Linked DNA regions of Homo sapiens. The protein of the gene in region 7 purifies or fractionates together with the protein of the main gene of each other region. This does not show direct contact. Each region holds a gene or a part of one and is shown on either strand. Other genes may lie near its edges. The genes, in order: CISD1, COX4I1, ACAD9, BCAP31, FAM8A1, ACOT9 and VDAC3.

Region 1 (4,656 bases), on a different chromosome or scaffold from region 7:
CTGTGTGTTGCTAATCAGAAGCTATAGTCAATGCCTATCTTAAAGCAAAACCAAATCAAAAACCTCCCTAACTAATGTAAAATCAAAAAATCTCACCTACTTTGTAGGAGAAATAGTAGGTATACATGGTTGTAGCTGTTTTTGTCAAGAAAGTAAATCATAAATTATCATAATTATATAACCTATGCCATAAATAGTGTGAGCTTCTAATTCTCCAAAATGTTTCTCTGTCTCAATTATATGGTCTACAGATGCCTAATAAATGTCTGTTGCATGAACAGATGAACAAGATTTTTCACATTAGAAACTTCTCAACCTAGTACACTCTTCAGAAATAACTAGAATATAAATGACATAGAGAAAAAAAAGATGAAAGCCCCACTTGTCTTGCCTCAACGAAATGAAAAGCACTTAGAAGCATTAAGGTGCTTAGCTAGAACAGTAATTGCACACAATGATTTTTGTGTAAAAAAATCTCATATTAACCTAACCACACTCACTTTGGTTTTTAGGTCAAATAACCTGAAAAGGGTTTTAATCATAAATGAATGCTAGTTCAAAAGCATGTAAACATTTTAACATGACCTTGAAAATACATTTACCTAATTATTTTGGCCTTTCAAAATGCTCAAGATCTATATTTCACAGTAAGGTGGTCATTTATAATTTTGCCATATGTATACACACACTCATATAATCCTATAGTTTTGAGAACTGGTACCAGGTTCCCCCTGACATTACAAAAATGCATGACTAACAATATAATTTCAAATTCAAGATAAAGAATAGTCTGTTAAGTTAGAAGGATGTCCCTTTATCAGAAACACTGGGAGTTGATGCATTTATTTTTCTTTAAAACAGTTCATCTTTAAAAGCATGATTGCTCTGTTTTGCTGACATGCATACTTATCTTAAAAAGAAGGAGGTGGGCAAAGAAAAAATTTACCCTAAGAATCTAATAGAATCAGTTTGTAGGATTTTAGATTTTATGATGAATATGTGACTTAAAGACATGTCCAAGTTAGTTACATGGGCTTCTTAAAACCACTGTACAATTTTGTTACCAACTTTTATCTACAGTAATACACAAAACTACATATTTAAAAATAGCCATGATCATATATTACATAGGATATGCTGCTGTCAGGTTTGATTCCTGTCAAGGTAAATGGATTTTAGCAAGTAGAAATTTGTGATTGACTACTACTGAGAATTCATGTATACTAAAATAAATGATGATGTTTACCTGCTTTATCAATTTCAATTGTTTGCCCAATTTTCTGTAAATTTTGCCATGATTTTCCTTCTAACCTATGAAATTCAAAAACCTAATCTCTTTAAAAATATTTATGAACTATTTGTCTTAAATCTTTTATTGCTAATTATTTTCAGTTTTTATATTTTCTTTTTTCTGAATCAACAATGAATGCAATGTTTCTGCTCGGAGTCTTTGAAGAATATTACATAAACAAACACTTGTCTTCAAATTTTTGCTTTTAAGAAAAAGATCATACAATTTAAAAGCCATGTGCTTGATTAGCTAGAGTGGGAAAAAAAAAAATCTTCCCACGCCTTTGATCTAATCTTGTGACTACTATTTCTGTCAGGATATGTGGCTTAGTGATCAAAAGACTTGACATTATATGTTCCAATTCCTTCAAAATCCTCAGTTCAAGTGCTTACCATTCCTTGGGCCAGAATTCTGGAACATTAGATTTTAAGACATTCTTCATGACTAATTTAAATCTAATATCACCTTTAACTAAATTTTCACTATTGGCTCCTTTAATGGATCCATCTTCATTAAATATCTGTGAAGATAAATATGAGGAAGTTACCACCCCTTTATTATTGACCTGACTTATGAAATTAAACAGAATAACATTTATCAATCATTTTGATTGAAAACGGTGAAAAACAGAAGCCATATTTTCTCAGTGTCATTACCAATGTCAAGAAAATCAAGGCTACAACAGGTCTTTCCTAGATTGTATTAAGAAATTAATGTAGCTGAATCACATCCTATTTAGTTTCCAGGTCAATATGAAAAGATGGTAATTTTTCTTTGAAACTTACAAGTACAATCTGCAAATACATAATTTTGAGAATAATTTAATATGTTGACTTCAAGATACAACTATATTCTATATAAGGTACAACTCTATATGTCAGTATTTTAAAGAAATGGATCCTTACAAGACCAAAATAACCCACAGGCCATGCAGGTTGGTTTTTCCTTTTTTTTTTTTTTTTTGTTTAAACAAATGTGCACCACGATGTTTCAACAAGACAAATGCCATAAATGTGAAAGCTGCAGTTTGCAATATACCACATTTAGAATCCAGCGAAGGTGAATCAGACAGAGGTGGTAGTCATTCTAATTAAACAATCAGGTAACTTCACGACAAGCTGATTTGCAGCATCAAAAGTGTCCATTTAAGTTTCTTTTTTCTTGATGATCAGAGGGCCCACATTGTCTCCAGTCTCTTCGTTATGTTTTGTGTGAGCCCCATCACAGAATGGGAACTAGGAAGAGAAAGAATGAATGTGAAACATCTAATCTCAAAATCAGTATTATGCTCGGCAGAGTGGAAGGTGATGCTTAATTCATATAACATAAAGATTTTCTTGGCTATCTTATATAGGCTTTCTTAAACAGCATATGTAAACTACATATGCTACTTAGTAAGATGAAGAAATTGACTTGTGCATAATACACACATCATTTATTGAATTTCAGTGTGATTGTGATGAGTGTTGAAGGCCTTTCTTATGTTTATATATTAGTTACATTCCTTTCTAGTGAACATGTCCATTGCCTATTTACTTCTAAGAGTTTAAGTTCATTTATTTAAAATCAATTTGCGGCCAGGCGCGATGGCTCATGCCTGTAATCTCAACACTTTGGGAGGTTGAGGTGGGTGGATCATTTGAGGTCAAGAGTTCAAGACCAGCCTGGCCAACATGGTGAAACCCTGTCTCTACTAAAAATACAAAAATTAGCCAGGCATGGTGGCGAGTGCGCATAATCCCAGCTACTCAGGAGGCTGAGGCTTGAACCTGGGAGGGGAAGTTGCGGTGAGCCGAGATTGTGCCACTGCACTCCAGCCTTGGTCTCAAAAAACATAAAAATAAAAAATAAAAAATAAATCAACTGCATATTATTCCTCTGTTATTTTTGCAGCAGTCTTTCCCAAATCTTTTCATTTTGCTTATTTTTTCATATTCTCAATTTCTCCACTTTCATACAAATATGTCAATATCTCCCTTTTTAACATCATTCATGGAGACAGCTTTCTTCTAGAGATGTGAGAAATACAAATTTCCATTCATTTTCATGAATTCACATTTTAGATATAACTGCTGTTTTGGTGTCCAGTGGGAGGGAGAGGGACAAAACTAAATTTCTAACATAGTGTTTTGCAGAGTGTGGTCCAAAGAACCTGAATCCTGCAAGACACTCTGATTTGGTTTCATTCTGTGTTAAAAAAACATATCATATAGCCCATTTGAATCACAGCACACATTATTTTAATTTTGCTATAAAAAACACAATTTTATCCCAGAGTTTCTCAAGGTGACTGGACTATGGACACTTTAAATTTTGATTTCTATTATCATAGTTTTCTGTAGAGCACACTTTGCAAACGCTGTTCTAAGATCCTGTTGCTTCAGCATTACTGGAGGCTATTGCTTCCCACATTATTACCTTTATTCGTAACTTTATCAAAATAAATTCTACATGTAAAAGCACCTATTTATAGGTTCTATGTTACGTTGATCGGCCTACTACGCTGGGATATTTGCATTTTAAACATTTCAGTGTTTTGTAGGGCTAGTTTTCCTTCATTGTTTCTTTTTTTTACTTTTTTTTTTTTTTTTGAAACGGAGTCTTGCTCTGTCGCCCAGGCTGGAATGCAGTGGCGCGATCTCGACTCACTGCAAGCTCCGCCTCCTGGGTTCACGCCATTCTCCTGCCTCAGACTCCTGAGTAGCTGGGACTACAGGCGCCCGCCACTACGCCCGGCTAATTTTTTGTATTTTTAGTAGAGACGGGGTTTCACCGTGTTAGCCAGGATGGTCTCGATCTCCTGACCTCGTGATCCGCCTGCCTCGGCCTCCCAAAGTGCTGGGATTACAGGTGTGAGCCACCGCGCCCAGCCTGTTAACTTTATTAAACTTTATCACTTTATTCCTCCAGATAAGCTTGAGAATGTTTTTTGCCAAGTTTTAATTTCTTTTGTAGTTTTCATCCTCAGATCTCATGTATATTCTGGTAAGATTATTTCTGTCATATTTTTAATCACTATTATAATTTATTTTCATATCTGAACATTCTTGCTATATAAAATCATTTTTAACAAGTATATCCTCTATTGTAAAATGAAAAAATAAGAATTTAATAATATTTCACTTAACTCTTCAGGATTTTACACTTAGAAGGAATAATTATCAGTAATTTTTTTGTTTCTCTATATTTGTATCTTTTATTTCTATTTCATGTCAAATGACAAGAGCTAGCATCTTTGCCTTAATCTTGGTGTTTTGAATGTATCTACACTCTAGAATCTAGAGTTTCACTGTTTAGTCTAAGGTACACTGTTGCTTTGAAGAAGCCTATTTAGAAGAGTAAAGTAAGAGGATTCTTAGCCTTAT
Region 2 (4,000 bases), on a different chromosome or scaffold from region 7:
TTCTCTTTACACAAAGCTCAGGCACATTCAATCAAGGGGAGCCAGGCCTAAGATGCATCACACAGATCTGACCATGCAACTACCTTTCTACAAGTGTCTGAGCTCCGGGGTGCCCGAGTACCGACAGCCAAAGAAGCATTTACACTTTGCCAGATAAGGAATCGGCTCTGCGAAGGTGCGAAGAACCAAATCCTAGCGATTAATGTCCCAACAACGTGAACACTTCCTGCAACTCGAAATCCTCAAGGGAAACTCTGTCGAATCCCCACCAAGTGAACGATGACTTGTTTCTACAAAGGCTACTGATTTCAGGAAACTAACGTATAACTCGTCGCCTTAAAGTGCCTCTAAAAGCATCCACGACGGTTAAAGTCGCTGCTACTACGGGACGCTATTTATTCAGCGCCAAGACCCAAGCGCCATCGTGGATCACCCCATTCCTGGCCACGGCAACCCTAGGGAGCGGGTCCTAGGAGCCTGCTGGAGGGCGACCGCTGGGCCAGCTTCCTCTCTGCTGACTGAGGGGAGGCCAGGCTGCCTGCAAGGGGAAGGGGCCCTTTCCGCGCTTACCAGGGTGAGAGCCACCTCCAGCATGGGGGCGAGGGCCAGGGTGCCGTGGAAGAGGGGGATGCAGTCCACGAAGAGGGTGTGGTGGGCGCCGGGGCCGCCCAGGGGGAGGTGCTCCTTACGCGGCTTCTGCTTCTCGGCCACCAGGAGCCCGTTGACGGCGCAGTGCGGGTACTTGGCGCCGTGCAGCACCATCTTGCAGTAGGCCTGGGTGGTCAGTTTCACCCCGGGCATGCTGACCCGGGAGGGCCCCGGAGGCCCCTGGGCGCGCGGCTGAGGCCTGGACCCGCTGCCTGGCCGCGCGGCGCCTCAGCCGAGAAGCGGGACGAGGCGGCGGCGATTGATGGCGCGGCCGCGGGCTGGCGGGGGACCCTTCAGGCCCGGCCCCGTTTGGGCCTCGGCTCCTGGAAAAGCGACTCGCGCCTCTGGGAAGCCGCAGCCCCAGACTCCAGTCGCGCTTCTCGCCCGGCGCCGCCGGAAAGCAGCCTCTCCAACGCCTGCCGGAAAGCAGCCCGGCCCGGCATTTTACGACGTTCGCAGCGCTACCCTTTTCCGCTCCACGGTGACCTCCGTGCGGCCGGGTGCGGGCGGAGTCTTCCTCGATCCCGTGGTGCTCCGCGGCGCGGCCTTGCTCTCTTCCGGTCGCGGGACACCGGGTGTAGAGGGCGGTCGCGGCGGGCAGTGGCGGCAGGTGAGACAGGAGGTGGCCGGTGCGGCGCCGCCAGGCCGGGCCGGGTCGGGGGGCCGGGAGCCATCAAGTCTGCACGTCCGCAGCCTGGCCGCTCGGCTTCAGCAGGAAGCACCGAATGGGCCTCGGAGCCAGGTGACATTGAGGCCGGCCCGTGGGGACTCCGGGCTCGGTGGCTCCAGGCTCGGGGGGCCGCCCCGAAGTGCCCGGTCCATCTTACCCGGTCTCGCAGCGGCTGCGGACCGGCCTCGGGCACTGACCTTGGAGCGCCCGCTGGCCGAGGGCTCAGGCTGCGGGGAGGCGGGCCCGCGCTCTGTGCCTGCAGCCTCCGCCCTTGCTCCTTCAAAAGGTCCCTGTGCAACCCCTCCCGGGTTTTGCGGGGCTCCCGGGCGGCGCTCGGCTTTCCAGCCTGGAAGGCGCCTATTGTTTGCTCACGCAAGGGCTAGGCCCAAGGAGAGAAGCTAGACGCGGGCGTTCAGCCCTGACGTCATGCTTGTTTATTCTGCCCCAAGGAGGGTATTTCCCCACATCACTCTCACCAGTCCTCCGAAGGGTCGATTTAAAGGGGGCCGTGTAAGGTTGATGGGCCTGAATAGAGGAGGGCCCGGGTGAGGGGGGGTCTCATAGGTTTTCCGCTCTCCTCAGGGATTGGAAATTGATCGGGGCTGTGTTGGCAGCCTTCTCCAATTTCCCCTTCTAGTCTATGTACAGGCGGTATTAGGTTTTAAACACTCAGTTGAATGTGATGCGTGCCACGGTCCCTGTGAGCTGTCACCTCCCCCCACCGCTCCCTGAAGAATGGAGTCTGTCACGGCAGCACAGTGCTTTAATGATCTCTAGCTTTTTCAGAGTCACCTTGTTAGCATTTTTTCTTCTTGCCTTTTTTTGTTTGAGACGGACTCTTGCTCTGGTTGCCCAGGCTGGGGTGCAGTGGTGCGGTCTCGGCTCACTGCAGTCTCTACCTCCCGGGTTCAAGCGATTCTTCTACCTCAGCCTCCCAAGTAGCGGGGATTACGGGCGCCCACTACCATGCCCGGCTAATTTTTGTATTGTTAGTAGAGACGGGATTTCACCATGTTGGCCAGGCTGGTCTTGAACCCCTGACCTCAGGTGATCTGTCCGCCTCGGCCTCCCAAAGTGCTGGAATTACCGGCGTGAGCCACCGCGCCCGGCCTCTCCTTGTTTTTTTAAAAAGACCAATGTTCTGTTAATTACCTGAAGCGCGTATATATTATGGCAGTTGATTTATAATGAAGCTCCTTAAAAGCATGCCAATTACTAAGAAAAACCTCATCCTAGGTCATTTTGTGAATTCAGAGACAGTGATAAAGAATGGATCATTTGCGTTGGGGAGAAGCAAACAAAAAAATTCCAAAATGCTCTGGGGCAAAAAGAAGACTAATTCCTTGCTGTTTGTCCTTATTCATAGAGAAGGTGTACATTTTTATCTTTCAGAATGTTGGCTACCAGGGTATTTAGCCTAGTTGGCAAGCGAGCAATTTCCACCTCTGTGTGTGTACGAGCTCATGGTAAGTGTGACTTTTCTTACTTTTAAATAGGCTGAACTAATTTCATTTTGCTCCTGCTGTGTATAAAGCCCTGTGCTGGAGTTTTAAAGACCTTAATTCGGCTCTTGAGGGTCTTTAGGGGAGATATAAATGTTCTCACAGGGCTTGGTTCTAGATTAAGAAGTGTTTATAAGTCAAATTGAATCTCTTCTGGATCTTTGGTTATACTGATACTTCCCCACTTACCCTTCCCTTCCGTTCCACTTTTTTAAGCTTCGAGATCTACCCCTTTCAAAAGATCTTCTGCACCATAACTGACTGACCTTAATGACCTCCCTCCCCACCTTGCCCCCACAACTCCCAACCATTTGCATCACCTCTGTTTACATTATAGAGGCAATGGAAACGAAAGAGCCTGGACTTCCTAGCCTGAGCTGGGTTTTCATCTCATTTCTATCAAGGACTAGCTACTGAAGCTCAGGAATCTCTTTGCTCACCTGAAGTATATGGACAGAGCTTAGTTCTGTGTCTGGCATACAGCACATTTACTTTTGCATGTATCTGGCGTCTATCTACTTTGTACCAGACACTGTTAGGCACCGAGAAGAAAAAGAATATGAAATACACACACTTTCCAGGAGGCTGTTTGCAATCTGAAGAGGGACGGATGGGTGAAGACAGTGTTTTATTAAGAGATGGCTCCTGGGTAGAAGCATTTAGCCCGATGTGGGTTTCAGGGAAGGCTTCTGGAGGAAACTCTCCAGGGTCTTTTCATTGCCTTAGTAGAGTCTACACCCTGCCTGGTTAGAGCTGGTCTTGCCTGCCTTTCCGATCTTATTACTGACTGTTGTACTCAAAACCCAAAAACTACCATCAGAACCACCCATCCCCACTTGCTCACTGCCCCAGCCCCCTGGCCTTACTCCATTCCTCCCGTAGAGCCCCGAGTTGTGGGTGGTCGCTCCTGTCTAATCATTCACCCTCGATACAAATGTGCTTTTAGAACGGCCTCTCCTGACCATCCTTTCTCAGGAAGCTCCCTGTCACCTCACCTTGCTGTGCTTTTCCTTATAACACTGGATGCCTCATGAATGCATGTCTATTTGAGTATTGCTGTCTCAGCCTCTTAGAGTGTAAGCCTTTTGAGGCCAGGGAGCCTGCCTGTCTTACTCATTGCCGTATCTCCAGCACATAGGAGGCAGATGAAGACGAACTGCAGGCTCTTAGACAAGTCTTC
Region 3 (4,231 bases), on a different chromosome or scaffold from region 7:
CCCATCTCCACTAAAAAATAGAAAAAATTAGCCGGACGTGGTGGCAGGCAGCTGTAGTCCCAGCTATTCGGGAGGCTGAGGCAGGAGAATGGCGTGAACCCGGGAGGCGGAGCTTGCAGTGAGCCAAGATAGTGCCACTGCACTCCAGCCTGGGCGACAGAGCGAGACTCCGTCTCAAAAAAAACAAACCAAAAAAAAGTGGCCAGGTATGGTAACTCACACGTGTAATCCTAGCACTTTGGGAGGCTGAGGCAGGTAGACTGCCTGAGCTCAGGAGTTCAAGACAAGTCTGGGCAACATGTTGAAACCCCATCTCTACAAAAAATACAAAAATTAGCCAGGTGTGGTGGTGCACGCCTGTAGTCCCAATTACTTGGGAGGCTGAGACAGGAGAATCACTCGAACCCAGGAGGCAGAGGTTGCAGTGAGCTGAGATCACAGCACTGCATTCCAGGCTGGGTGACAGAGGGAGACTATGTCTCCCACGGCAAAAATAGTACTTATATGGCTTGGCTTGGCCCCTTAGGTGCTTATGATCTGCTCTAAGAACAAGCCTCCAGATGGACCTGAACCCAGATGGACCTGAACCCAACTCACAGCCTGAAGCAGGCTGCCAGGCACTGCAGACTGAGACAACTAAAGGCTGGGGACTGTAAGCTGAGCTCTAAGGTGGTGTGTCTGCTAGGGCAGCTACAGCAGGGGATGACCAGCAGGCCTTCAAGTGAGCAGCACTCAGCTGCAGGAACAAAGACAAAGCCCAAGTGGCATTCTTAATTTGATCTTTTTAAAATGCTTAACAAAAACTGAAAGTGTTTAAATCTCATTTTATCTTGCTATTTGGACAGAGTCAAGGGCCAGTCTCCCCCTTACACACACACACACACACACACACACACACACACACACACCGTCAAAGGCCAGTCTCCCCCTTACACACACACACGCGCACGCGCGCACAGGAGCTACTTACTGTTGGAGCCCCGAATGCCTAATTTATCTTCGGGTTTCCCATTAGTGACTCCACCAAAGTCTCTTTCTACTATGAATGCTGTGATTTTGTCTTTCACTGATCCATCAGAATCAACGACCTCAGTCTTTGCAAACACAGTAAAAATATTGGCCAGTCCTCCATTAGTAATCCAGACCTGAGGACAGAAAGATGGACTTTGGAGAAAACCAAACCCCTATGTGACCCACCTCAGCTCTGTCTTTGTCCATCAAGCTCCAGCTGCCAGTCAGACCTCAGGCCAGACATGCAGGGTCCTTGGCTCTGCAGAAGCCAACCAAGCATGAGTGAATAGAGGACAGGGCTCAGCCCACTTTCCCCAGAGCAAGGATTTTCCCAAGGGACATGGATGGCCAGGTGGAGGCGGGGGCGGGGGAAAGAACACCCAAAGTTGTCAGACAGCTCAGGCTCCACCGCCAGACAACTGCATTTCTTCAAGAAAGAAAGGGTTTAATCATTTCTTAAGGTATACATATATAAAAACATCATGTTGTAGATGTAAATACACACAACATTTATTTGTTAATTCTACAAAGAAATGAAAAAAGGCGGGAGGGTGGTGAGGAGGAGGAAAGGAAACAGAGGGAGACAGAGGCAGAAACAGACTCCTTAACAAACAGCAACAGATGGGACTTGTGTGGATCTTAATTCAAGCAAACAGTTAAACCAAAAAAAGGTATGAGGCAATCAGGGATATTTGAATGCTGATAGAAGTAAGAAATTATTAGCTGGGCACAGTGGCTCACGCCTGTAATCCCAGCACTTTGGGAGGCCGAGGTGGGCAGACCACTTGAGCCCCGGAGTTTGAGACCAACCTGGGCAACACGGTGAAAACCCATCTCTACCAAAAAAAAAATACAAAGAGTTAGCTGTGTGCCTGTACTCCCAGCTGCTTGGGAGGTTGAGGTAGGAGAATCACCTGAGCCCAGGAAGTTGAGGCTGCAGTGAGCCAAGATCGTGCCACTGCACTCCAGCCTGGGTGACAGAGCGGGACCCTGTCTCAAAAGAAAAGAGAAATTATCAATTTTTAAAATGTGATAAGGGTATTACGGCTTTGTGTTTATTAAAAAACAAAAACAAACAAAAAAAACTCCTGTCTTTTAGAGAGGCATGCTGAGATTGTTACCATGCGATCTGGAGGTGGCGATGCTGCTGGAAGAGGCACAGTGGCCATAAGCAGGTGACTGCCGGAGTTAGGGCCAGCCAGGCACACAGAATATGTCTGAAACTTTGTGTAACAAAAAATTTAAAGATTTTTTGGGTTTACAAGCCGGGCACAGTGGCTCATTGCCTGTAAACTCAGCACTTTGGGAGGCCGAGGTGGGCAGATCACTTGAGGTCAGGAGTTCAAGACCTGACTGGACAACATGGTGAAACTCCATCTCTACTGAAAATACAAAAATTAGCCAGGAGTGGTGACACGCACCTCTAATCCCAGCTACCCAGGAGGCTAAGGCAGGAGAATCATTGGAAACCTGGGAGGCAGAAGTTTCAGTGAGCTGAGATTACACCACTGCACTCCAGCCTGGGTGACAGAGACTCCATCGCAAATAAAAAAAACTAAAAAAAATTAAAAACAAACACATAAAAGCAGCTCAAGAAGGTAGTCGGTGCTACAGCAGCAGGTACAATCCCTGGTGTGTGGAGAGTGCTCACTCAGTGGCAGTGAAGGTTGTGACTGAGACCCTAATGTGGCCATGGGGAAGGAACCCTACCTTGGAGCCATTGAGGATGTAGTGCTTCTTGTCTTCACTTAGTGTGGCTCTGCTCCGGATTGAGGCTGCATCGCTCCCACTGCAGATGCAGAAAGATGTGGTCAAGGGAGAATACTGGGAATAAATATGAATGCTTTTGAGGGCCTGAAAATGGAGGTTTTAGTACTTGTAAGAGGTCAGCAAACTTTTAAAATGAAGGGTCAGATAACATATTCAGCTTTCCAAGCTGCAGGATGTCTGTCTCACCTCCTCAACTCTGCTGCTATTAATAGAACATGAGGCTGAGGCAGGTGGTTCACGAGGTCAAGAGATTGAGATCTGGCCAACATGGTGAAACCCCGTCTCTACTAAAAATACAAAAATTAGCTGGGTGTGGTGGGGCATGCCTGTAGTCCCAGCTACTCGGGAGGCTGAGGCAGAAGAATCGCTTGAAGGCGGAGGTTGCAGTGAGATGAGATTGAGCCACTGCACTCCAGCCTGGGTGACGCAGCAAGACCCTGTCTCAAAAACAAACAAACAAAACTTATTTATAAAAAACAGGCAGGAGGCTGGATTTAGCCGACCTCTGCTTCAATACATCACGTAAAAAAGCGGCAGTGAAAACAACTTGGGCTTAGGTTTAAACATGGAAATGGGTGCTTGCAATGGGCTCATCTGAGGTCCTGTGAGGATGAGTTCTGGGCACCCCAGGAAGGATGACTGTTCCCAGGTTCTCATGCAAAGTGAAGCAGGATGGAGGATGGTCCAGGTGATGGACTTATCATCAGAGTCCCGAGTGCTGCCGCAGCCCTGCTCCATCCAGCAGATCACACAGCCTCACTGAACCTCAGCTCCTAATGTGTAAGTGGGAGCAGTACCACCCACGCTATATATTCTGAAAGGTGCTTTGAAGCCGGAACGTTATTACTATATTGTATGTCAAGGTGTGTTGTAAACCACAAAAATTTATTTAATAAGTGCTGTCAAGCGTGGTATCTCACTTGCAAGTCTCACTGGGACAGAGAAATAAGGTCAAGATAAGAGGAATGGCAAGAACAGTTGCTGAGTTGATTCTTTGCAAGATTTTGGAAAGAAGGAAAAGTCAGCTACTCAACAAAACCAACAGCCCCTTGCCCCAGTGAATCTTGGGCAACATCACAGCTGCTGAGGGATAACGTTTTGTGCAGAGACAGACCTGGCTGGCTCCGTGAGGCAGAAGGCTGCAATGTGCTCCCCGGACGCCAGTTTAGGCAAGTATTTGGCTTTCTGCTCCTCAGTGCCAGCCAAGATGATCCCCTAAACAAAACAGACACAGACTAATGTCAGCTGTGGGGAGAAAGGAGAGCATGAGGTGTTTGTGAAACATTTCCTTTCTGAGGCAAATATTTACTTCGGGCAAGAGAAGACAGCAAGAACTCAGAGCAAGCGGCCACAGGCAGAGCCCAGGGAGCCAAGCTGCTGAGGAGACGGTCAGGGCGCACATGCCAGTGCCGTGAGCCTGTGCAACCCACAGTGCTTTGCAGTCTGTGTC
Region 4 (4,231 bases), on a different chromosome or scaffold from region 7:
GGCCCTGAAGAATGTGGCTCCCACAGTGTAACACCAGGACGCCCCATGGTGGGTCGGGAAGCTGGGCTCACCTTCTTGAGCTGGTCATTCTCCTCCATGTACTTCTTGGCCGCCTCACTAGCACTCTCCGCCTGCTTTTTAAAGGCTTCATTGGAGGCCAGCAGCGTGGCCTGCTGCGAAATGAGAGTCACCAGGCGTCTAAGCAGGCTGCAATTATTTACAAAAAGAAGGGAGAAGTGAGAAAAAGAGCATGAAGGGCTGGCAGGAGCACCTCCTGGTTGCTCCCACTCCACACCTAGCTCCAGCCTGGACCTGCCCTCTTGCCAAGGCAGCCGAGTGAGAAGCCGCCAACCTGGTGCTGGCAGCGTGAGGGAAAAGGTGGGGCCCAGGAGCCGTCCTCTGCCGCTGTGCCCAACGGCCACCCTCAGCTCTCAGAGGGGCTGGAAGCAGGAGCCTGGGGGGCTGGGAAGAGCCTCGCTACAGCATGAGGTCCCAGAACGCGGCACTTTCCGGGTCGGGGCCTAGACGTGCCAGACAAGCCACAGCACCACCTTCCTCCCTGCGAGGCTGGGCTTGCCTTGGTAAGGTAACGAGAGAAGCTAATCAATCCAAGCACTTCCAACATGCCAGGCCGCATCCTCACATCTACCTGATGAGGAAGTTACTATCACTGCCCCAGCTTATAGAAGAGGAAACTGAAGTTCAGCAGCGTAAATCAATGTACCCAAGGCCAAAAACCAGAAATGGACATGGCTGGAATTCCAAATTATGTCTGCCTGACTCCAGAACCTGAGCTCGGAACCACTCTGCTCTCTAAACTAACAGGGAACAGCTCCCAGGTCCCAACGTAAGATAGAACTCTCTTCTCTGGCCAGCCTCCTTCCCAACCCATCATGCAGGCTGCGCTGGAACACATCCGTTATGTAACAGCACCCCGAATGAGGTCTTCTTGGGCTGGAGGGTGTAGAGGAATCAGGACACAGGCGCAGGCTGCCTCTCTGAAGCAGCCAGGAGAGACAGGCAAACAGGTGGCAGCTGGAGGCAGATGCTAGTCCCCAAACAGAGATTGGAATGGCCACTTCATTTCCCTTGGTTCACCCTTGCCCCGAGATGTTAGCTGGCAGGAAGAGAGGAGGGAAGGACTCGTTCAAACAGTCAAAACAAGGCAGGGGTTCCTTTCTCACACACCTCAGAAGGCAAGGGTCACACAGGGCCTGGGGGAAGGAAGAGACAAATCTGCTTAGTCCAGAGTGCTTCAACAACAGCTTACTCAGAAGAGTCGAAGTGGCCTCCTGCCCCAGCCAGGCCTTCACACTTCACAGCCTCTGCTCATGGCCAGGGGCAGCCCGGAAGGGCTGGAGAAAGTAAAGAGCAGACAAGGTGAGCTACCTCCCTGGCCCAAGCCATGGCTCTCCAGGGCCTCGGCAGAGCCCCTTTCCAGATGTACTCAGGACAGAAAGTACCCACCCGGGCCAGGAGACACCCCTGAGGTTCCTGGTTTGGGGAGAGGCTCCCAGGGGCCCCTGGCAGCACCAGGAGAGCCAGGCCGTTGATTCCTGGCAGAGAAGGAGAGTTTCCAGTGACATGTGCTTTCTAAAATTAGCGGCCCAGGACCTCGTGGCCTAGGGCTCAGGTTTCCCTGCCTCAGCCCCCAGCTGCCCACCAGCCTGCCCCGCACTGGGCTACAGCCTGAAGGTGGAGGAAGCTACTGAGCGCCCTAGGAGCCAGAGAGAAACAATGCATCTGACTCACATCGGCATGGCCAGAAGTCAATGGAGAGGCCTAGAAAGAAAGGCAAGTCTGACTAAGACCCAGGCCCCCGGCAAGGAGCTGCCCAGCCCCAGAGCGGATCCCAGTGATGTAGAAAGAGGAAGAGGACCGCTCCTCCCAGCTGGAATTGAGGGGTGGGGGTCATGCCACCTGGTGGTAGAGAGAGGACCAAGCAAGACTGAAGGCTATACTCCCCGCCACCAGGCCAGGCAAGCGGCTGCTGGTGAGTGCCCATGGCTGTCACCCCAGTACCCAGGGAGATAGCTAACACAAATGCTTCCGCGGCAGTGCAGCAGAGGCCCAGCTCTTTTCGGACCGTCCCAGGCCCTTCCCGGCTATTGAGAACCAGGGCTTCCAAGATAGGCCAGGGCATACACAAAGTCCAGCGCAAGATCCACGCTGTGTGTGTCCGAAAGCCTGGCCCTGCTCAGCCCCAGCCCAGGCCTTCAGTTCCCAGCCTTGAGACAGTCTGGGGCTCCCCTCTGCCAGGCCCCGGTTCCCCTTCCTCTTGCCAACCCTCACAGGCGCTCCCCACCCCCACAGCACCCCGGGCATACTCCTCCCACTGCACCCCCAGCCCGATAGTTCTTTTTCACACCTTCTAGGTCCTCTCTCTTCCTGCTGGATGACCCGGGATCATTCTCCCCCCAGGAACCTCACCTTCAACTGCCTCCTTCCTGGAGTCACCCTGCCCAAGCCCCTGGTCTTTTCCCTCCCATATATTCCTCAACCTAGGCTGGCCAAGGCCTGCCCTTCCAAGCCAGCAGCAGGGCCACCAGTGGCCTCCTAACCGCCCAGGCCGGAGGTCACCCTGAACTCCTTGCTCTGCTGCTAAGTTACCCTCCTGAGGTCCCCTCGCAACACCCTCCTCCCACTGTTATTCTGCTCCCTCTGGGGTCTGCACTCTTCAGCTGACACCCTATACCTTCCTCCCAGCCACTCTTATCCCCGAAAGGGTTTTCTCTGTGGCCCAGACTCATACCTAACCTCCTGCTAAACATTGGCTCCTGGATGTCCCCAGAGACATTCTAGACTCAGCTTGTCCAAAACGGGCCTTCCCTTGTCCTGCCTGACCTGACCACCTCGTGTAGCCCCTGCTGTAGTGGTGGGCAGGCAAACCGCCTTGGACTCAGCCCTCTTGGCCCCCAGCCCAAGCCACAACCCAGCACTTTCCATGTCAACTGCAAACATGCCCACCATCATCCCCACTGCTGGCGCCTCCTCCCTATCTGCTGCCATACGGCTTTCCCATCCACCTCCCAGAGCAAGGCAAATCCGACCATGTCAGCCCTCTGCTTAAGCCACCTGCTGCCAGCACGCATGCCCTCAGTGAGCTCTCCTCCTTCACTAACCACGTGGCCCCCTGCTCTAGTAACACCTAACCCCTCACCATTCCTGGAACACGCCTGGCTCTGTGTGGCAGTTCTCCAGGCCGGAATGTCCTCTCGACCCAGCTCAATCCTCACCTCCCCCCAGAAACCCTTTTGGATCTCCCACCCCATCAGAGGGACGCCTTCTGGGGGCTCCTGCAGCAGCCCCCCAGGCACCCGCATGTAACTACCTCATTCTCTGTTCTCTGCGTGGCTGCCATCCGTTTATATGGCTGCCCTACCAGGCTATGAAGGTCTTTAGGCTGGGCACTGTGCCTTCATCTCTGCACTCCCATACCTGGCACACTGAAAAGGGGTCTTCCGCCCACTCCAGCAAGTATAGCTAAAAAAAAAAAGGGGGGGAGGGCGCGGGGCTGGGCTTCCAGATGACTGGATCCCACTCCCAGGAGAGGAAATGCTCCCTGACAGGTGAGGGGACAGATTTGAGGCTGCACGTAAGGCTGGACAGAATCTCCCTGGGCCTAGACTGCACCTGTGTTCACCTGGGAGCCTGGCACCAAGAGGGGCAGAGGCAGACACAGAGCTGCTCAGTCTAGCAACAGAGGAGACAGAAGACAGGAGTGGGAAGGCGCCGTCTCAGACCCGTTCTGATGGGCAAGCCAGGCTCATGGCTGCAGGGGGAAAAAACATTCACTGCCGCGACCTGAAGGCACAACCCAGAGCTCCAGCCTCTGCATCCTCACACCCTCAACCCCCACCCAGGGCCCAAGCAATGCAGACCAGGTCCTCTCTGATCACTGGCATTTTTCAGCCTGGGAGCCAGCCTTCTAGAACATTTTCCCGCTCCCTCACACTGGGTCACTCAGGCACGTTAACGTGCGCTTGTCTGTTCCCTTGTAGCTTCCCAGGCCCCCAGGACAGGGCACGAACATGGCCTTTAGCTTCTGCCTCTGCTGGATCTCCCAAGTAGTCTTACCCGAATCACTGTTCTTAGCTATTCATTTCCAGAAAACAGGAAAGAACCTAAGAGCCAAAGGCAACTCCTACAGATACAGGGTGGTCACCAATAGAATGGCCTGGGGTCCAAAAAAAGGCCAGTGAACGAAACTTAACAGAATCCAGATGTGGCC
Region 5 (4,231 bases), on a different chromosome or scaffold from region 7:
TAGAGACGGGGTTTCACCATGTTAGCCAGGATGGTCTCGATCTCCTGACCTCGTGATCTGCCCACCTCAGCCTCACAAAGTGCTGGGATTACAGGCGTGAGCCACTGTGCCCGGCTATAACTACCAAATTTTAAGAAAAATTTGAAGATGGCAAAACCAAGGTTTCTAGAATCACTTGTTTATATTTCTTGATGTAACAATCCAGCTCTGAATCATTCTGGCAAAAATTGCAGCCAATACCTTGTTTGGCTCAACTGACTACCAGCCACTGACCTCCACAGTTTCCATTATCACTGGTTGTACCTTCCCCCAGCGCTAGATGCCAACAGCTAACCTTGAATACTGGCAGTATTACAAGCTCTCACCTAACAGCAGGAGAAGGATGCACGAATGCATAGCTGTCAAAACTCTGCTGCCTATTCAAGATGGAATAATGACAGGCATGGCCAAATGGAGACTCAAGGCAGACTAGTACCTGACCTAACATCCACAGGTCCAAAGAATAATAAAGCTGATTGTGGAGCACTAATACACCATCAACACCCAAATCATCCTCTCGTATTGTGACTTATAATTCATAAAATGATCATCTTGAGGCAGGGCATGGTGGCTCACGTCTGTAATCCCAACACTTTGAGAGGCGGAGGCGGGTGGATCATGAGGTCAGGAGATCAAGACCATCCTGGTTAACACGGTGAAACCCCGTCCCTACTAAAAATACAAAAAATTAGCCGGGCGTGGTGGCGGGCACCTGTAGTCCCACCTACTCGGGAGGCTGAGGCAGGAGAATGGCGTGAACCTGGGAGGCGGAGCCTGCAGTGAGCCGAGACTGTGCCACTGCACTCCAGCCTGGGCAACAGAGTGAGACTCCGTCTCACAAAAAAAAAAAAAAAAAAATCATCTTGAAAATGTGTACTGTAAAAGAGGTCTACAATCATGTAACACAACTGAAATAAATATTCAAACTTTGTTTTAACTTAATAAATATAAGCCTATCTACTATGAAGAAAAAAACCCCAATATTCTAAAACACATTATTTTCATTAAGTATGTAGTAGATTAAGCTAAGAAAAGGACTTACGTTGTAATGCTAACATTTGAGGAAGGAATCACTAAAACCCGACTTGGTGCAATAAGCACTGATGTATCACATGTCACAACTCGAAGCCCCAGCAGGAACTTCCCTGGGGTAGCTCCACCTGCTCCCCAAATGCAAATTATCTAAGGAAAGAAGGATGATTTAAAAATTACTGGCTCAACTATACCAATTTTAAAGATAAACTTTTCCCACCATATTATTTCATGTTTTAAATTTTTCAAGTTGAAAGAATTGCATAGAATACTCAAAAGTTAACCATTTAACTTTATGCATTTCTGTAGGTCTCTAACATGTCCAATACCACAAGATGTCTGTCTCCTGTAATATTTCTCTATGACTACTATACTTTCTAGTAAGCTGCTTCTGCAGAAAACTACATTGCAATTTACAAGTATATTTTTGGACCACAATCTATAAGTGAAATTTTATTTGAGTTTCTAAGACTGAAAAATATTACAAAGAAATTGTAAAATGTCTCTCTTCCAAAAGTTTTTACTTAATGATTAGTTAAAATTTGGGAAAAAAAACAGAAAAGTAGACATGTGGAAAAGACATGAATAATTATAAATTTCGATTACTTTTTCGTCTTGGGCTGATAATCTAAAATTAGATTGTTGGCTAGGTGCAGTGGCTCATGCCTGTAATCCCAGCACTTTGGGAGGCCAAGGTGGGCAGATCACTGAGGCCAGGAGTTTGAGACCAGCCTGGCCTACATGGCAAAACCCTGTCTCTACTAAAAATACAAAAATTAGCCAGGTGTGGTGGTATGCACCTGTAGTCCCACCTACTCAGGAGGCTGAGACAGGAGAATCACTTGAACTCAGGAGGCAGAGGTTGCAGTGAGCCAAGATCACACCACTGCACTCCAGCCTGGGTGACAGAGCGAGACTCTGTCTCAAAAAAATAAATGTAAAAACATAAAATTAGATTGTTAAATATTAATTCTTGCTGAAGTCAGTAGCTTACCTCATAGAAACAAACTAATAATCTGTATATAAGTGCCACAACCATCATTTTCTGCAAGTCTTCCATTGATGTGTCTTCATCTATTTCTTCTATTATATAATGCATAGCAAACTTAGAGATATCCCTACACAAAATAATAGTTTGGGGTTATAAATAATTAGTTACCAGAACAGTAGCACTGACTTTTTTTTCATTAGTGCAAGTCATACATTTTAATTGAAATTCTAAACTAATCTTTAGATTCCCAACCATCTAGTATCATAAAGCATTCATTAGTTTATTCAACAAATAAGCAGCATTATCATGAGCAGACACTGTACTAGCACGGGGGAAATAAGGGTGAATGAATTTACACGGTCCCTGCTTTCGTGGAGGGTCTAACCTAGCAAAGAAAACAGAACAATAAATAAATAGCAATAATAAAGTGGGATGAGTGCTGTGATGGGGAACCTAGGATACTATGGAAACATACACCAGATACACTTAACCTTGTGAAGGTTTCCCAGAAAAGACAGTTAGATGAGGCTCTGAAGGATGAAGAGAAGTTAGCCAGACTAAGAAGAGGAAATAACGTTCCAGAAAGAGGGAACAGCAGGAGAGAATGTCTTGGAGAAAGAGAGAATATGATAGAAGCTGTAAGCAGTTTGGTGTGGCTCATATACTAAATGTGAGAGGTGGCAGTGATTAAGAAATAAAGGCAGGGTGTGGTGGTATGCACCTGCAGTCCCACCTACTTGGGAGGTTGAGACAGCCTCCTGAGTATAAACCACATGATGAAATTCAGACTTTATCCTGCTGGTAAAGAGAAACCATTGAAGGGGCTGAGCATGGTGGCTCACGCATGTAATCCCAGCACTTTGGGAGGCTGAGGTGGGAGGATCGCCTGAGCCTAGGATTTTGAAAGCAACCTGGGCAACACAGACCCCATCTCTAAAAAAACAATAAACATTTTAAAAAGAGAAACCATTGAAGGGTTTTAAGGTAGGAAAGGAACAGAACCAGGATTTATGATCACTTTGGTTTTATATCAGAGACTGGATTGAGATAAAACAGGAGACTGAGTTACCACTAGAAGGCTTCTGCTATAATCCAAGCAAGAGACGACAGTAATCGGAGTAGGGAGAAGCAATGATGATAAAAAATGGGCCAGGTGTGGTGGCTCATGCTTGTAATCTCAGCACTTTGGGAAGCTAAGGCAGGAGGATCATTTGAGCCCAGGAGTTTGAGACCAGCCTGGGCAACATAGGGAGACCCCATCTCTACAAAAAACAATTTTTTTTTTTAATTAGCTAGGCATGGTGGAGCATGCCTGTGGTCCCAGCTCCTTGTGAGGCTGAGGTGGGAGTGTCACTTGGGCACAGGAGATCAAGGCTGCAGTGAGCCATAATTGTACTACTGCACTCCAGCCTGGGTGACAGAGCAAGACTCTGTCTCAAAAAAAGAAAAATGATCTGGCAGTGAGGAGGTCTGGGGTTGAAAGCTATTCAGAAAATTGAACATAAAGGAGTTGGTATTTCACTGGATGTGGAGTGGAGTGAGAGGGAGGGACAGGGAGGAATCACAGTAACAGGTTTCTGGCAAGGACCCTGAAATTTGACTGCACAGGCTTGTATCTTGACTCTGTCACTTACTACCTTTGTAACATTTTAGGTTCTGTGCTCAACTTTTCATAAACCCAAATTTCAAACTCTATAAAATGGTGGTATTAATCTCTACACCTCATCTTGGTATTAAGATTAAATAAGAATCCACATAAAGAAGTGAGCAAGCTCAATACATGGCATATAGAAAGTACTCAGGAAGTGGTAACTGCTATTATGATTATTGTTAATCTGGAAGGATTACTCAAATAAACGTCTCACTTTGAAGTTCACTTGGGACTTGCCCCACAGTATGTGCAATCCCATTTGGAAATGCCATCTAGTTGATTATTAATTCACCTACCAAAAGCTCTTTATACCTTTGTCTTTAGAGACTCCACAAGATAGCAAGAGGGAACAGGATAGTGAGAGGTAAATTAGTTCCTGGCCTAAAAGAATAGGTGAATAAAATCAAAGCAGGTTTGGAGGCTCTTTTTACCTATTTTTGATAGGTGAGATTCCCACACATCTTATAGAATTCAGTAAGCTATTTTTTTTCCTTTCTAGTTATTTCTTAAAATCAACA
Region 6 (4,231 bases), on a different chromosome or scaffold from region 7:
GAGTGAGACCCTGTCTCAAAAACTAAATAAATAATTTTAAAAGATTTAACAATTTTATTGTTAAATTTTAAAATGCCTTAAAATTTAATTAATATGAACAAATTATAAAATTCAAAAGGCCGGGCGCAGTGGCTCACGTCTGTAATCCCAGCACTTTGGGAGGCCGAGGCGAGTGGATCACCTGAGGTCAGAAGTTCGAGACCAGCCCGGCCAACATGGTGAAACCCCGTCTCTACTAAAGATACAAAAAATTAGCCGGGCGTGGTGGTGTGTGCCTGTTATCCCAGCTACATGGGAGGCTGAGGCAGGAGAATCCCTTGAACCCGGGAGATGGAGGATGCAGTGAGCTGAGATAGCGCCATTGCACTCCAGCCTGGGCAACAAGAGCGAAACTACAGCTCAAAAAAAATAAATAAACAAAATAAAATAAAATAAATTCAAAAAATAATCAGTTTTTGAAAGGGCAGAAGACAAAACCCTGGGGATAACCTACATTTAAGGGATCAACAGAAAAAGAGGAACCTACAAAGGGGACTACAAAAGAGCAGCCAGAGAAGCAGAAGGAAATGTCACCAAAGCCCAAGGATGGGCTGGACGATATAAGAAGCCACAAAGGGGTCAGGTCAGCCCTGAAAAGTATCCATTCAACTGTGCAGTAAAGGGGCCAATGGCGAGCTTGGCAAGAGCAGATTCAATGGCGTGGAGGAGCAGAAGCCGGAACACAGCCGACCGGGAAATGTTTAATTAACAGGAAGTTAGCATAAAGAGGCAATGAGAGCAGGTGATTTTCTAGGTTCTTTTCAGAAAGTGAGCTATGAAGTAAGGAAGAAAGTGTGAGGTGTTATAAGGAAAGAGGATTTTTTACTTATCTTTTTTTTTTTTTTTGACTCAGAGCCTCACTCTGTCACCCAGGCTGGAATGCAGTGGTGCGATCTCAGCTCACTGCAGCCTCCACCTCCCGGGTTCAAGCCATTCTCCTGCCTCAACCTCCTGAGTAGTTGGGACTACAGGCACATGCCACTACACCCGGCTAATTTTTGTGTTTTTGAGACAGAGTCTCGCTCTGTTGTCCAGGCTGGAGTCTATCTCAGCTCACTGCAACCTCTGCCTCCCAGGCTCAAGCGATTCTCGTGCCTCAGCCTCCCGAGTAGCTGGGATTACAGGCACGCACCACCACGCCCGGCTACTTTTTGTAGTTTTAGTAGAGACGGGGTTTCACCATATTGCCCAGGCTGGTCTCGAACTCCTGGCCTCAAGTGATCCACCCGCCTCGGCCTCCCAAACTACTGGGATTACAGGCGTAAGCCACCCTGCCCGGCCTATTTTTCATTTTAAGATGGAAGAACCTTGAATATGTTTATAACTTGAGGGAAAAGTGAAGTTGAGAAAAGGCTCAGGAAATGAGGGAGAAAGCCAAGTGATAAGGCAGTTCCTTGAAGAAATAGAAGGAATAGAATCAAGTGAACAGGTTAAAGGGACTGGCCATCAACAGAAGTTAATGAGCAAGAAAGAGGGTAGTGGCAGGGGAGTTTGTATATATAAGGACACCTAAGCAAACCAAAGTCAATCAGGCTGTAGTGCAGTGGTGTCACCACAGCTCACTGCAGCCTCGACTTCCTGGGCTGAAGCAATCCTCCCACCTCAGTCTTCTGAGTAGCTGGAACTACTAGTGCATGCCACCATGCCCAGCTAATTTTTTGGGTTTTGTAGAGATGGGGACTCACTATGTTTCCCAGGCTGGTCTCAAAGTCTTGGCCTCAAGCGATCCTCCTGCCTCGATCTCCCAAAGTGCAAGGATTACAGGTGTGAGCCACTGTGCCCAGCCAAGAATTTTTAACTGGGTTTATTTAATCTAGAGAAAAGTAGTTGCTAGGCGTAAGCTTAACAACAAGCTTGTATCTATATTTTAAAAGTTAGGGCCTGGCATGGTGGCTCACACCTGTAATCCCAGCACTTTGGGAGGCCGAGGCAGGCAGATCACCTGAGGTCAGGAGTTTGAGACCAGACTGGCCAACATGGTGAAACCCCGTCTCTACTAAAAATACAAAAATTAGCCAGATGTGATGGCGGGTGCCTGTAATCCCAGCTGTTCAGGAGGCTGAGGCAGGAGAATCGCCTGAACCCAGAGGCAGAAGATGCAATGAGCCAAGATCGGACCACTCTACTCCAGGCCGGGCAACAAGAGTGAGACTCTGTCTCAAAAAAAAAAAAAAAGGCCAGGCACGGCGGCTCACACCTGTAATCAGAACTTTAGGAGGCTGAGGCAGGAAGATCCTTTGAGCCCAGGAGTTCACGAAAAACCTGGGCAACACAGGGAGACCCCATCTCTATAAAAAAATAGTTTTTTAAACAATATATTAGAACCCTTTTTCAGACCCTTTCCCAACCATTCAGCCCAAATATCATTAGGTGGGAGCAAGTAAGGTAACCTAGAGTAGGGTGCTGGCATCCAAGCACGGTGAGGAGGACATCCTTGCAGAGAGGCTGCAAGAGTGATGGCAGAGCATGTCACAGCTTGAGCACAATGAAGAGGGTGAGCCTGCAGAGGGGGACCTGGTGTGGGGTACCAGAGCCCAGGTAAGGTGAGGGGAGCATCCATGATGCATGAGGGGTGGCAGCCATAGGAAATTGGTCACATACAGCGGAACTGATTAAATAAGTCAATATATTAAGGAGAATGGAGCCAGTTGGAGAAGGGAATTACAAATATGGAAAGGAAGGAAATGAGAATGAACCCCGTGGTGGCTGAACTGGAATTGGAGCTATCAGTGCGATCCCATGGTTTTCATACATACATCTGTACAAAGATTTAGAAATAACATATATGTACGTATATGCACATATATTTCCCAGCTCCTCCACTAAGAGGGTATGGGAGCAGTGATACCCAGGAATAATGACCACTCCCAACGCACATATCTCCATTTCAAAATATCATCCTCCACTTCAAAATATCATTCTCCATTTCAAAAAAGGGCTCCTTGGAGATGTGGGTGATTCTAGGACTGGGGCAGGGAAAAGCATAAGATGAGCCTAGAATATTTTATTGTGCCAGAAAGTGAGAAAGTGCTCAAAGAATAATGGGGACACATCAAAGAAAACCACACAGAAGCTAGCCTGAAGGGACTGGGACACTCCTGGGATCATGTGAACATCAAATAGATGATAGTAACATATTATAGTCCATTCAGTAACATAGGAATTCCTGAGTCCATACTGATTTAAAAATAATGAATTGAAAGTCTGATGAAGGTCTCAAAGTTACCTGCCACCCCCCCCCACATAAGGTACTTATTAATTACAAAGGGGAAAAGAGTAACTTTACAGTGAAGAACAGTGGCAGACATCATCGTCATCCAGTAAGCAAAGCTGATATCATCAGTAATGAGACAAATCAAAACCATGCACCACTTGATAGGATACAATAAGAACAGAGCATCCCTTCTGTGACATTCCTGCCAGAGATGCATAACCCAAAGCTAATCATGAGGAAGCACCACACAGACCCAAATTGAGGGACAATACACAAAAGAACCATGTCAAAGTCACGAAAGTCAAAGAAAGATTAAGGAACTAGTCCTGACATGACAATTAAATCAACATATGATTCAGAACTGGATCCTTCTGCTATGAAGGACCACTGGCAAAAGTTGAATGGGACCTGAGGATTAGACAGTATGACACATCAGTGTTAATTTCCTGATTTTTTATGGTTGTTTTGTAGTTATGTAGAAGAATGTCCTTGTTTGTAGGAAAGACATATTCAAATATTTGGGGGTGATGTGGCATCATGTCAGCCACTTATTCTCACATAATTCAGGGACAAAAAATTTTTTTCTTTTTTATTTTTGAGACGGAGTCTCACTCTGTCGCCCAGGCTGGAGTGCAGTGGCGCGATCTCGGCTCAATGCAACCTCCACCTCCCAGGTTCAAGTGATTCTCCTGCCTCAGCCTCCTGAATAGCTGGGACTACAGGCGTATGCCACCACGCCTGGCTAATTTTTTGTATTTTTAGTAGAGATGGGGTTTCACCATGTTAGCCAGGATGGTCTCGATCTCCTGACCTTGTGATCTGCCTGCCTCAGCCTCCCAAAGTGCTGGGATTATAGGCGTGAGCCACCGCGCCTGGCCACAGAAAAATTCTTTATACTGTATTTGCAACTTTTCTGTAAGTTTAAGACTTTCTTTTTTTAAAGTTACTAGTAAGAAAGATTATTCAGACTATACCTCC
Region 7 (4,231 bases):
GTCCATAGTTACAGACCTTATATTTGGTTTCTAGGTTGCCTGATGCTTTCCCTGTATCAGTGTAAGCATGACCAGAAGTAGAAAATTCCTGGTAAGCAAGAAAAAATAATTACTTTAAAATTAGCTCATCAAATAGAAAATATTCACTTTGGAAAGCAGTGTTCAATGTATCAAAAACAATACCATTTACTGCTTGCCACAGCCCTACTCTAGAGCAACTTCTTTCCTCCTTTCCCCTTGCTTTTCCAGTCCCTAAATATTTTAACCAGTTCTGCCAGGCGCAGTGGCTCATGCCTGTAATCCCAGCATGTTACGAGGCCAAGGCGGGTGGATCCCTTGAGTCCAGGAGCTCAAGACCAGCCTGCGCAACATGGCAAAACCCCATCTCTACAAAAAATACAAAAAATTAGCCAGGCATGATGGCACGTGACTGTAGTCCCAGCCTGAGCCCAGGAGGCAGAGGTTGCAGTGAGCCGAGATCATGCCACTTCACCCTAGCCTGGGCAACGGAGTGAGACAGCTCAATACCAGTTTCAGATCTTTCCATTACTCTACTTCTCTTATTAATATCTCTTGTTCCATATACTCTCTTACCAAATGGTAATCCTAAATTCTCTCCTTTAAAAAAGAAGTATCTTTACTGAAAACAAATGCCTTTACTAAAAAGACCAAAAATATTGTATCTTAAACATTTTACTTTCATGACCTAAAAAAAGATTATCAGTTCTCTGCTATATGTTTCAAACTATCAGTTAATTTCAAGGTCCTTAAAAATCCCAAAATACTGCCCTCCTCCTTTTTAATAGGGTCAACACTTTACTACTTCCTTTTAAAAATGTTTTTTTTTATTGTGGTAAATACATGTAACATACATTTTACCATTTTAATAATGTTTTAAGTGTACAGTGAAGTGGCATTAAGTACAGTCACACTGCTGTGAAAACTTTAATGCTTTTGTGTGCAAAACTGCAAAACTTCTGCTTAGACAATTTCAATATTTGAAAGTACTACCCATTTTTCAAAATAAAGTAGAATGCTATAATTTATCCTTCTTTCCCCCTTTCTATCCTGTCTACCTTTAAGAGTGCTTTCTATCAAACAGTTACTATGAATGAGACTCTGTCTCAAAAAAATAAAATAAAATAAAATACATCCTTTGCCCTAGTTCAGTGCCCTTTAAGTCATATGACAATAAGCAATTAGAAATGGACCTCCTTCTGGGGAAAGCAGACAGCACCTGTCACTGACAATCTATGAACTGTCAAGAAAAAACATTCTGATTGGTCCTGTTTTAGGGAGCATTTCTGAAATCCTGCCAACAGTAATGAGATGCTGCCAACCCTGACCAGTCTTTTTCACTGCCTGCAACATGAATCCTCTCCTTAACAAATGCCCTGTCCCCTAACTCTAGTTCTACAGGCAGATGAGACAACTGGGAAGTTATGTTCTGTTTATCAAACCACACAGAATGGTTTCAAAGAGAGTATCATGCTGCACATTTAGGGGAAGGCCTTAGTAAAAAAAAAATGATAACATGTTAATCATGTTTAACTGTTCACATAATTATTTTAACGTGACAATCATTTTTCTTTTAGTAGATCCAACTATCTAGTGTTTTATTTTTTACATTTACTTTTCACAAACTTGACAAGTATAACAAATGCAAATCTTAATTTTGGTGCTAGAAAAACCTTATGCACAAAATTAAGGTAGAGGGGTAGTCTACATTTCTCCCTTGTCAGCATCAATTCTTAGTTTGAAGGTCTGTCACGAATCTAAAATGCCACAGGTACAAATCTCAGAAAAAAAGGCTAGAATTGTTCTAAGTTGAGTTCCAGGCTCACGATTCACAGTTCAGTTTGTGTCTAATTTCATAATTTGGTCAAACAAGTGCAAAACACATTTATAACATGCATATAACATGCATATAGCTCTACATTAAATGCTTAGTAAGCAACAAAACAAACAAAAATGTTACTGTTAAGTAGATAGCATATGAGAAAAATATCAAGACACAATCTAAGAAATTTGGAACAATGATTGAAATTTATCCTAAATCAATACCAGAAACCAAAAGCAGCCATAAAAACAAGCATACGAATAAGCTTTTTTTTCTTACCATCTGAATGAATATTACCACACAACAGCAGCATGAAAGGGAGATAAAATTTTAGTTGATAATTTTTGCAACACAAACCTAATGAGCAAATTCTGGAACCTACACAAAATGAGAATGATTCTTCTATTTTAACAGAACTATATACACAGCGTGCCCATCTTAGTAAGGGAGGTGCATATATATTTATTTACTCCAGAGAAACCCAGGGAAAGAATGATGGTCACAAACCATGATTATACACAGTATCATTAGAATTCCACATGTCTTTGTCCTTCTAATTATACATTCAGAAATAAAATTTTCATGGGTTTGAATGGATAAATACCAAAAACGATGCAGCCAATGAGGAGAAATCAGAGTAAGGTAAATTAAAACTTAACCTACTTGCTGAGATTTATTAAATAAAAGCAATTTTTTCTGAGACGGAGTCTTGCACTGTTGCCCAGGCTGGATGGAGTACAGTGGCACGATCTCTGCTCACTGCAACCTCTGCCTCCTGGGTTCATGCCATTCTCCTGCCTCAGCCTCCCAAGTAGCCAGGACTACAGGCACCCGTCATCAGGTCTGGCTAATTTTTTTGTATTTTTAGTAGAGACGGGGTTTCACCATATTAGCCAGGATGGTCTCAATCTCCTGACCTCGTGATCCGCCCGCCTTGGCCTCCCAAAGTGCTGGGATCACAGGCGTGAGCCACCGCACCTGGCCTTTTTTTTTTTTTTTTTAAGACAAAGTCTCACTCTGTCACCCAGGCTGGAGTGCAATGGCTTGGTCTCGGCTCACTGAAACCTCCACCTCCCAGGTTCAAGAGATTCTCCCGCCTCAGCCTCCCGAGTAGCTGGGACTATGTGCGTGCCACCACACCCAGCTAATTTTTGGTATATTTTTAGTAGAGACGGGGTTTCAGAATGTTGACCAGGCTGGTCTCGAACTCCTGACCTCATGACCCGCCCACCTCGGCCTCCCAAAGTGCTGGGATTACAGGTGTGAGCCGCTGCACCCAGCCAAAAGCTATTGTTAATGATACTTTGAAAATATGCCAACATAGCCTTTACTGTAGTCTTTACTTCCAATAAAAAAAACTTTATAAACATCAGTTAAAAACTGTAGAATAATGTACATGCATACGTGCAGAAATACATTTTATTTACATATTTTGTTTCGACTAATCATGAAGGGGCAGAGTAAAGTTAATTTGTTTTTGTAAAAGGGTAATAAAATTTCCATGAACCCATTATCATGGAAGTGAGGTTTTTGGTGCCCATATACATATTCATGAAAGTATAAACATATGACATGGGTCAAAAAATATATATTCTACATCTTCTGAGTGAAAGCTGTAGTATACTCTGAGAAACACAAAAGGTCTCTTCAAAAATTCAACTTGGTTGTTTATTTTAATTGGCTAAGAATGCTGTTTAAAATCTGAGAGGACAAAGCTGTGGGGAAGACAGCATGGTGCTGGTTCAAGTAACTAGACTGTCATGATTTTAAACAGATTCCTTTAAGTTAATTATGTTACATTCATTAAAAATATATTAGATACTCACCACTCCACTACAAGACTTGGTTTTCAGGTCTATCTTGACCATGCCAAAGCCTATACACACACACACACAAAAACACAGTAATGTACAAAATGTGACATTCACTAGTTTTTGCAACTCAGAAATTATGAAATAGCCTATAGTACCTTCCATATGAAAAATGCATAGTATTTTCATTGGGTGAGAGTTCCTCAAGAAACTGAATTATAACCAAATAAATGCAGTATAATTTTCAAGCACTCAAAATGAATAAAGATATACTTTTAAAATGTAAGTTAAAGAAAAAAATAAATGAAAGGAATATGCACTATTCCAAGAATCAAAATTGCTGAAAATAGTGTGCTGCTATATATATCGTTTAAAATATAGTTAACATTACTAGTTAATAAGAAAAAATCAAATATGTACAGCACATAAATTTAAGTTAAATTTTAAAACCTAAAAAATATTTATTTAGGATCAGAATATACATTACTCCAAAGAAGTCAAAAGTTATGTTGTCACTTTCATAAAAACAATGCCACTGTTTGGAGGGAGGAAAAGTTCTACCCCCTAATTTAATTGTCCT

The links.
Region 1: the proteins of VDAC3 (region 7) and CISD1 fractionate together in Homo sapiens (co-fractionation; one large-scale study listed by BioGRID). This does not show direct contact.
Region 2: the proteins of VDAC3 (region 7) and COX4I1 fractionate together in Homo sapiens (co-fractionation; 2 studies listed by BioGRID). This does not show direct contact.
Region 3: the proteins of VDAC3 (region 7) and ACAD9 fractionate together in Homo sapiens (co-fractionation; one large-scale study listed by IntAct). This does not show direct contact.
Region 4: the proteins of VDAC3 (region 7) and BCAP31 fractionate together in Homo sapiens (co-fractionation; one large-scale study listed by BioGRID). This does not show direct contact.
Region 5: the proteins of VDAC3 (region 7) and FAM8A1 purify together in Homo sapiens (affinity purification with mass spectrometry; 2 studies listed by BioGRID and IntAct, with this or other methods). This does not show direct contact.
Region 6: the proteins of VDAC3 (region 7) and ACOT9 fractionate together in Homo sapiens (co-fractionation; one large-scale study listed by BioGRID). This does not show direct contact.

What each region holds. Positions count from the first base shown.
Region 1 is NC_000010.11:58,285,431-58,290,086, reverse strand, and holds the end of CISD1 (CDGSH iron-sulfur domain-containing protein 1), read right to left. Parts: intron 2,527-4,656; coding exon 2,437-2,526; 3' UTR 501-2,436; downstream 1-500.
Region 2 is NC_000016.10:85,798,495-85,802,494, forward strand, and holds the start of COX4I1 (cytochrome c oxidase subunit 4 isoform 1, mitochondrial isoform 1 precursor), read left to right. Parts: upstream 1-1,200; 5' UTR 1,201-1,258; exon of another isoform or gene 1,259-1,373; coding exon of another isoform or gene 1,374-1,390; intron 1,391-1,782; exon of another isoform or gene 1,783-1,828; intron 1,829-2,689; exon of another isoform or gene 2,690-2,710; coding exon of another isoform or gene 2,711-2,711; coding exon 2,712-2,784; intron 2,785-4,000. Other genes in the region: EMC8 (ER membrane protein complex subunit 8), read right to left, coding at 571-801. UniProt on the Homo sapiens protein: Component of the cytochrome c oxidase, the last enzyme in the mitochondrial electron transport chain which drives oxidative phosphorylation.
Region 3 is NC_000003.12:128,896,201-128,900,431, reverse strand, and holds part of ACAD9 (complex I assembly factor ACAD9, mitochondrial), read right to left. Parts: intron 3,997-4,231; coding exon 3,896-3,996; intron 2,801-3,895; coding exon 2,722-2,800; intron 1,146-2,721; coding exon 971-1,145; intron 1-970. UniProt on the Homo sapiens protein: As part of the MCIA complex, primarily participates in the assembly of the mitochondrial complex I and therefore plays a role in oxidative phosphorylation.
Region 4 is NC_000023.11:153,703,888-153,708,118, forward strand, and holds part of BCAP31 (B-cell receptor-associated protein 31), read right to left. Parts: intron 208-4,231; coding exon 72-207; intron 1-71. UniProt on the Homo sapiens protein: Functions as a chaperone protein. Is one of the most abundant endoplasmic reticulum (ER) proteins.
Region 5 is NC_000006.12:17,602,864-17,607,094, reverse strand, and holds part of FAM8A1 (protein FAM8A1), read right to left. Parts: intron 2,190-4,231; coding exon 2,066-2,189; intron 1,222-2,065; coding exon 1,082-1,221; intron 1-1,081. UniProt on the Homo sapiens protein: Plays a role in the assembly of the HRD1 complex, a complex involved in the ubiquitin-proteasome-dependent process of ER-associated degradation (ERAD).
Region 6 is NC_000023.11:23,725,800-23,730,030, forward strand, and holds part of ACOT9 (acyl-coenzyme A thioesterase 9, mitochondrial isoform a precursor), read right to left. Parts: intron 1-4,231. UniProt on the Homo sapiens protein: Mitochondrial acyl-CoA thioesterase. Catalyzes the hydrolysis of acyl-CoAs into free fatty acids and coenzyme A (CoA), regulating their respective intracellular levels. Regulates both mitochondrial lipid and amino acid metabolism.
Region 7 is NC_000008.11:42,394,569-42,398,799, reverse strand, and holds part of VDAC3 (non-selective voltage-gated ion channel VDAC3), read right to left. Parts: intron 3,717-4,231; coding exon 3,667-3,716; intron 2,123-3,666; coding exon of another isoform or gene 2,120-2,122; intron 89-2,119; coding exon 1-88. UniProt on the Homo sapiens protein: Non-selective voltage-gated ion channel that mediates the transport of anions and cations through the mitochondrion outer membrane and plasma membrane.